Regions from separate parts of the Homo sapiens genome. Here region 2 is linked to region 1. The links come from fine-mapping of genetic effects on gene expression. Tissue or cell type: whole blood. Region 1 holds a variant in brackets; the other region holds the start of a gene. Each region is shown on its reference strand, or each on the opposite one.

Evidence for each region. PIP is the estimated chance that this variant, and not a neighbour inherited with it, causes the effect. A credible set is the group of variants that fine-mapping cannot tell apart.
Region 2: it holds the start of OTX1, and the variant in region 1 is the best candidate, but not a certain one, in a credible set for the expression of OTX1 in whole blood (TOPMed, PIP 0.87).

Annotation. Positions count from the first base shown.
Region 1 is chr8:60,732,241-60,735,043 of GRCh38, forward strand. The region is part of intron 1 of CHD7 (chromodomain helicase DNA binding protein 7); the gene reads left to right. Among named protein-coding and RNA genes, the nearest start is that of CHD7, 55 kb to the left of the region's middle. The variant C/CA (reference allele first, on the strand shown) is at 1,552.
Region 2 is chr2:63,049,316-63,052,118 of GRCh38, forward strand. It overlaps OTX1 (orthodenticle homeobox 1), which reads left to right and starts at 1,515. Exons shown (of 5, transcript NM_014562.4): 1 at 1,515-1,582; 2 at 1,934-2,002. RefSeq lists enhancers at 1-653, 1-16, 17-764 and a silencer at 881-1,540.

The DNA.
Region 1 (2,803 bases):
CAGCTTTCCAGAAATTTTTTAAAATGTAGAAGAATGTAGGAAATTGCCAAATCAGTTAGTTAATCAGTGACAACTGCAGTCAGTACACGAAGAGCACGCTTCTTACAAGAGCAGCTAGCTGTTTGCTGCTTTCTCAGCCCCTCTGCATGCTTGCCCTTGCCTCACCTCTGCATCCTCCTCCAGAGGTTCAGTGTCAGCCTTATAGGAGCTGGTGATTGCCACGGGGTCCCCAGACAGAGCATGGCCACAGGGCAGCTCCTTCCTTCCCTTCCTTCTGTTCCACCCTCACTTTTTGTAGGCTTGACATCACCTGGAGCTTCTGTGTGTCAAGTCAGTAGCTTGAAATAAGTCTAGAATAAGTGGGAAAATCTTTCCTAATGGTGATTTTTTTAAAATCAGGCTAATAAACATGGTGTTACTAGCCTTTATACACCACCCTGGGCTTTACAAAACCCAGGATATTTTATAATATTAAGCAAGATACATACTAGCAATCAGCAAATTTTGTAAAATATACATTACTCTTCCATAAGTCTGCACTGTAAGCATTCTTGCCAGGTGGGTTGAAATACATTTCTGAAATTTAATTTTTTTCCTATCCAAAATAAATTACTTAAAAAGTTTTCATTTACTTATTTCTAGACCTGTCTCTTCATTTGATTTTCTTCTCTACCATATTACAATTAATTAGGATAACATTCAAAAGATATGAGACCTGGTGCAGTGGCTCATACCTGTAACCCCAGCACTTTAAGAGGCTGAGGCAGGAGGATTCCCTGAGCCTAGGAGTTCAAGACCAGTTTGGGCAACATAGTGAGACTTTGTTTCCCAGGAAAAAAAAAAAATTAGCTGGGTGTGGTGGTACACAACTATAGTCCCAACTACTTGGGAGCCCGCACTGGGAGGATTACTTGAGCCCAGGAGTTGGGAGACTGCAGTGAGCTATGATTGTGCCACTGCACTCCAGCTTGGGTGACAGAGCGAGACCCTGTCTCTTAAAAAAAAAAAAAAGATATGGGATAGATACACATATTTTATGTAGCTACATATGTGATCTACACCTAGGTATGGTATATATAGATACATGTTTGTCTTCATTTCTCTTTTGCCATACAATGTTGAGTACTTCAGGTGCTATTAGAATGTGTGCCCATCTGTTCCTAGGACATGTTGTGTACATGGAATGAAGACCCTGCTGGACATATTTTCTTAGTGTCTGCACTGCGGCAGCAGGTCAGCTGTCTCCACGTTAGGGTCAAGGTGCTGGCCACCTTCTCAGTGGGCTTAGCCTTTAGGAGTTAGCTTCAGAGAGGTATTTGAATTTTGAATTGCAGGGTGTAAAGGACACAAATTTTCATGATCCTTGTGCTTTTGTGGCATAATTTATGTATGGGGTAATATACTCCTTTTGACCACTTTGGAAAAAGCTAGTGCTGTGGGCATGCACTTAGTATAAGCTGTTAGCCAAGTGCTATTTCATTAGTTGCCTTGAAAGGAAACGTTAGCCTCAATACTGCATGAAGGAACAAAAGAACAGCTTTTTTTTTTTAT[C/CA]ATAAAGGCTACTCAGAATATCCAGAGTCTTCAAAGTTATGTAGAAATAACTGAAAGATTTCTGCAAGAAACCTGTGAAATAGTATGTTATGTAACATAGCATTAGATATTAATGTTAACTGCATTTTTTTGACTTGCACAAATGATTGGCAAACAGATGGGCATATCTTTAAAATTAAACCATCTTTAGATACCCACTCCTTGTAAACTGTTACAGATTAAATTTGTCACTAAGGGCTGTTCATAATTCTTTGAATGAAGTCAGTATTGTTTATTTGTCAGACACAAATGTCAAGACTACTTTCTTTAAGTGACATATCTTTGTATTGCTTTATAATATTCTTTGTAACATGTGCCATTTGTTGTTGATCCATTATATTAACTGAGTGGTCAGTGTGCTATCCTGTAGGAGGAGCTCAGAGTCTGAGGGCAGGACTTCCCAAACTTTCACATGCACAGGAATCACTTGGGGCCTTTGTTAATAAAGGCAGATTCTGGTGCAGGAGGTCTGAGGTGAGCCTGAGAGTCTGCGTCTCTTACCAGCTCCCGGGGGTGCCAGGGGTCCTGTCTCTCAGGATTCCACTTCACATGGCAAGGCTCCAGTCGCCAGAAAGAGAGGGAGGTGAACACATAAGAATAGTAGCGTGCTTGGCACTTTTGTAGCTTCTGCCCATGTTGATGTGGTGGTACTGCTAGCAAGGGCTTTGAAATCAGCCTGAAGAGGGAGGGTTGAGGGTCAGGAAGCTTCCGAAGATGGGTGATAACAAAGGAACTGAGATGAAAAAGAGGCCAGCCTCTACAGTGAGGGGATAAGGAGGCCAGGGAAGAGACCATGGGTGTGAAGGCGAGGAAGGTATGAGATAGCTGATGGATGGTTGGTAAACTTTGAGTAGTTTGATATACCTAATGGGGGTGTTTGTGAGTGCTTCAGGGGATAGAGGGAAGGGAGTTAAGGGAGTTGAGAATGGACAGGTCAATAAGGATTTGATTATTAGTGCCTTCAAGCATGCTGGAGCATTTGGACTGGAACCTGAAAGCTATGGGAGGTCCTTTAAGGATTTTAATCAGGGAGAGGTATGATGTAATCTGTGTTTTATAAGATCATTCAATCAGTAGTGTGAAAGCGTTGAGACCAGAATTAGGAGAACTGATTAGATTTCTAATTTTTTGTGGTTCACTAAACCATGAAGGTCTGATTACTTCAGAGCTAGTGTAAACAGGGAGGAGGAGTTAGACCCATAAATATCTGGGA
Region 2 (2,803 bases), not on the chromosome of region 1:
CTTATTAAAGGTCCTAAGAAGATCTCCCGGGTCCTTTGAGAAGCAGTTAAGGAAACAGTGTGCCCTCCATCATATTCTGTTACCGTATTTTATTCGGACTCCAAAGGAAAGTGTCGCTTGGGGGAGGGGGAAGCACTTTGATGAGCGGCGGCCGCGGCCCCTTTTCACTCAGCGGGCTCCCCCTTCGTTCTCCTCCTCCTCACCCAGCGCCCGGTCCGCTCTCGGCGCCCGACCCCGCAGCCCGGGCAGCGCGAGTGCTCCCCACTGCGATGCGCCTGGAGGCTCCTTGACTTGCCCTCACACTTAATCCTGTGCAAACTTTTTACCCCGCCTGTCGGGGTGGGGGAGTGGGGGAGATTAGAAACAAGGGGTAGAAATTCCTCGAAAGGGAATAAAGTGCCTAATTTTCAGGAGGAGGTGCCATTTAAAAGATTCGCCTAGCTTAGAGTTGGAACGAAAACTCTTTTTTGCACTTTTAAAAGTCCACCCAGGTAGACGTGTTTGGGAAGTTTTTTCGGGTGGGAAATGGGCTTCGCCCGTACGAACAATCCGGGGAAATCGCCTCAAGGAGGATCCTTACGCAGCATGTGGAAAAAAGTTGAGGGCAGGGGTCTGTGGCCACATTTTCCATCAAAAAGTCCCTGTTAGAGGCAGTCTAAGAAAGAGAGAGAAAGAGCGAAAAAGAAACTTTCCTATCAAAATGTTTCAATTAAGAAGTAGGGTGTACGTGTGAGGGGAAGAGGACGCTGGGCTCCAACGTTTCAGTAGAAGCGCTTAAGACTTGCAAACACCCTTGGTGGGGACCTGGAACCCCGGGAGATGCCGACGAGCAAGCAGGTAAGTGGCGGCGCCCTCCCAGTGGGTGCTCTTCCCAGGCGCGAGAGTCCGGAGGGGCCGAGGAGAGATCTGCACGCCCGGAGCTGCTCCCGCGCTCTGCAAAGTAGCCTGCGCCGGCACGAGCAGCCCGCGGCGTCGGTCTCAGGTGGCGGCGCCGGGGAAGAAAACGCTGGGGCCCGCGGCGCCGGGAGAGGGGCCGAGGCCCGGGCTCCTCCAGCCCGCCGCCCCCGGGTCCTGGCGCCCACACCCGAGCGGCTGAGCCCTGTAGCGCGCGGGAGAGCGAAGGAACCGGTTCTCCAGCACCTCGCCTCCTCCCTGCCACTCCCTCCGGAGCGCCGAGAGCGCGAGAAGGGCGGGGGCGCCCAGGGCAGGCCTGGAGACCCACGGCCCCCTCCGCGGCCAGGACTCGGGCTCTCCGCTCGCCTTCCTCGCCTAGCTCTGCGCCGCTTTTGCCAGCCGAGTCCCGGAGTTAGCGCGCGACCGGGGCGGGGCGGGAGGGCGGGGAGGGCGGGGTGTGGGGGGCGGGGGAGGGCGGGGGCGCGCGGAGGTAACCCCCGGCTCGCGCAGCCATTGCCCGGCTCCCTGTCACTCAGCCCGCGCGGGGCCCCCGATTGGCGGCCTAGCCCCGTTACGCACTCGCCTCGCGTTCACATACCCGGGGAGGGCAGTAGAAAGGTGATCAATCTTCATCAGGCTACATTTCCAATCACCTAAACAACCGAGCAAGACAAGCCACTCCGACAAGGTAAATCGCTTGATTTATTTAGTTTGCAAAGTGACTCTGCAGGACTTCCCAGTCCCCACTGCCTCCACGTTGCACCGGGAGTGCCGCGGCAACGCCGAGCCACCTCCCAACTCTGCCCCTCGAATTCCCCCCCTTGCGGCCCCTCGGCGCGATCCCAGGCGAGGCAATGTCCTGAGAACGTGTGGGGCTTAGCAAACAAAGTGTCTGTGCAATAAAGTGAAACCCAGAAGGACACGCACAAAGCCATTGAAAAAAAAGATAGAGGTGGGAAGAAGGAAGTTGGGAAAAGAAAGAAACCTGGGGGTCCTAGACCAGCCGCCAGGGTAATTCCAGTGCTGCTCTGTTTTGCAGGTTGGCTGCCCGGCGGGTCTCTGTGAGAGATCCAGGTAGATGGTGAACGGCCCCGGCAGCTGAGGGCAGGTAAGGAGAAAGCCGCGGGGCCACCCCGGACTCCGGGAGCGCGTTGGTTACCCTTATCTCCCCCTCCTCAAATGGATCCCGGCTTCCCCGGTCCCCAGCAGGTGGTCGGGGCTGTGGGAGCGGCCTGGCTCCCCTCTTGGTGAGCCGAGGACCCCGGGGCGCTGTCGCGGCCCGCAGCCCCCTCCCCCGCCTCCTCCGAAGTAACCAAGCTGAAGTGCTAAGTTTGGAGAAAGTCTTTGAAAACTCACGCTGCAGCTTCGCAAAGCCGTCGCAGCTTTGAGTCCCATTTTCCTTCGGCCCTAGAGCCCTGGCTGCTTCCCTTCCGGTCCCCTTCCTACAAGCTGGACTCCCTCAGCCCAGGTCTTGGGTCCCAGAAGACGGGGGCGGGAACGGGGCTGGGGGGAGCTTCTTTAGCTCTAACTTCTCTCCTTGAACGTCCTAGCCCGAGTCCCTGGCTTGCTTCACAGCGATCCCGCTAAGCGGGGTGTAGCGATGGCCCCCCAGGGCCCCAGGCCCAGTTTCCAGCGCCCCTCCCTGACCCCTGAGAGTGGCACCCCGGGTTCCCGGCAGCGGCGGGGGCGAGGCTTCGACCTCCCAGCTCGGGTCTGCGTGGGCTACGCCGCTGAGGCCTAGTTCTCTGTTCTCGACCGTGTCCTGGGGCCGCGGGTTCAGCTACAAGGATGGCAGCACGCGACTTGCTGCCCTCCGGCTTCACAAATCCCCGAGACCCTTTGAGGTGCTAGGCCAGTCACCCTTCACCCCCTGCTGGGACCCTGCGGTCCGCAGCCCAGACTGGGCAGA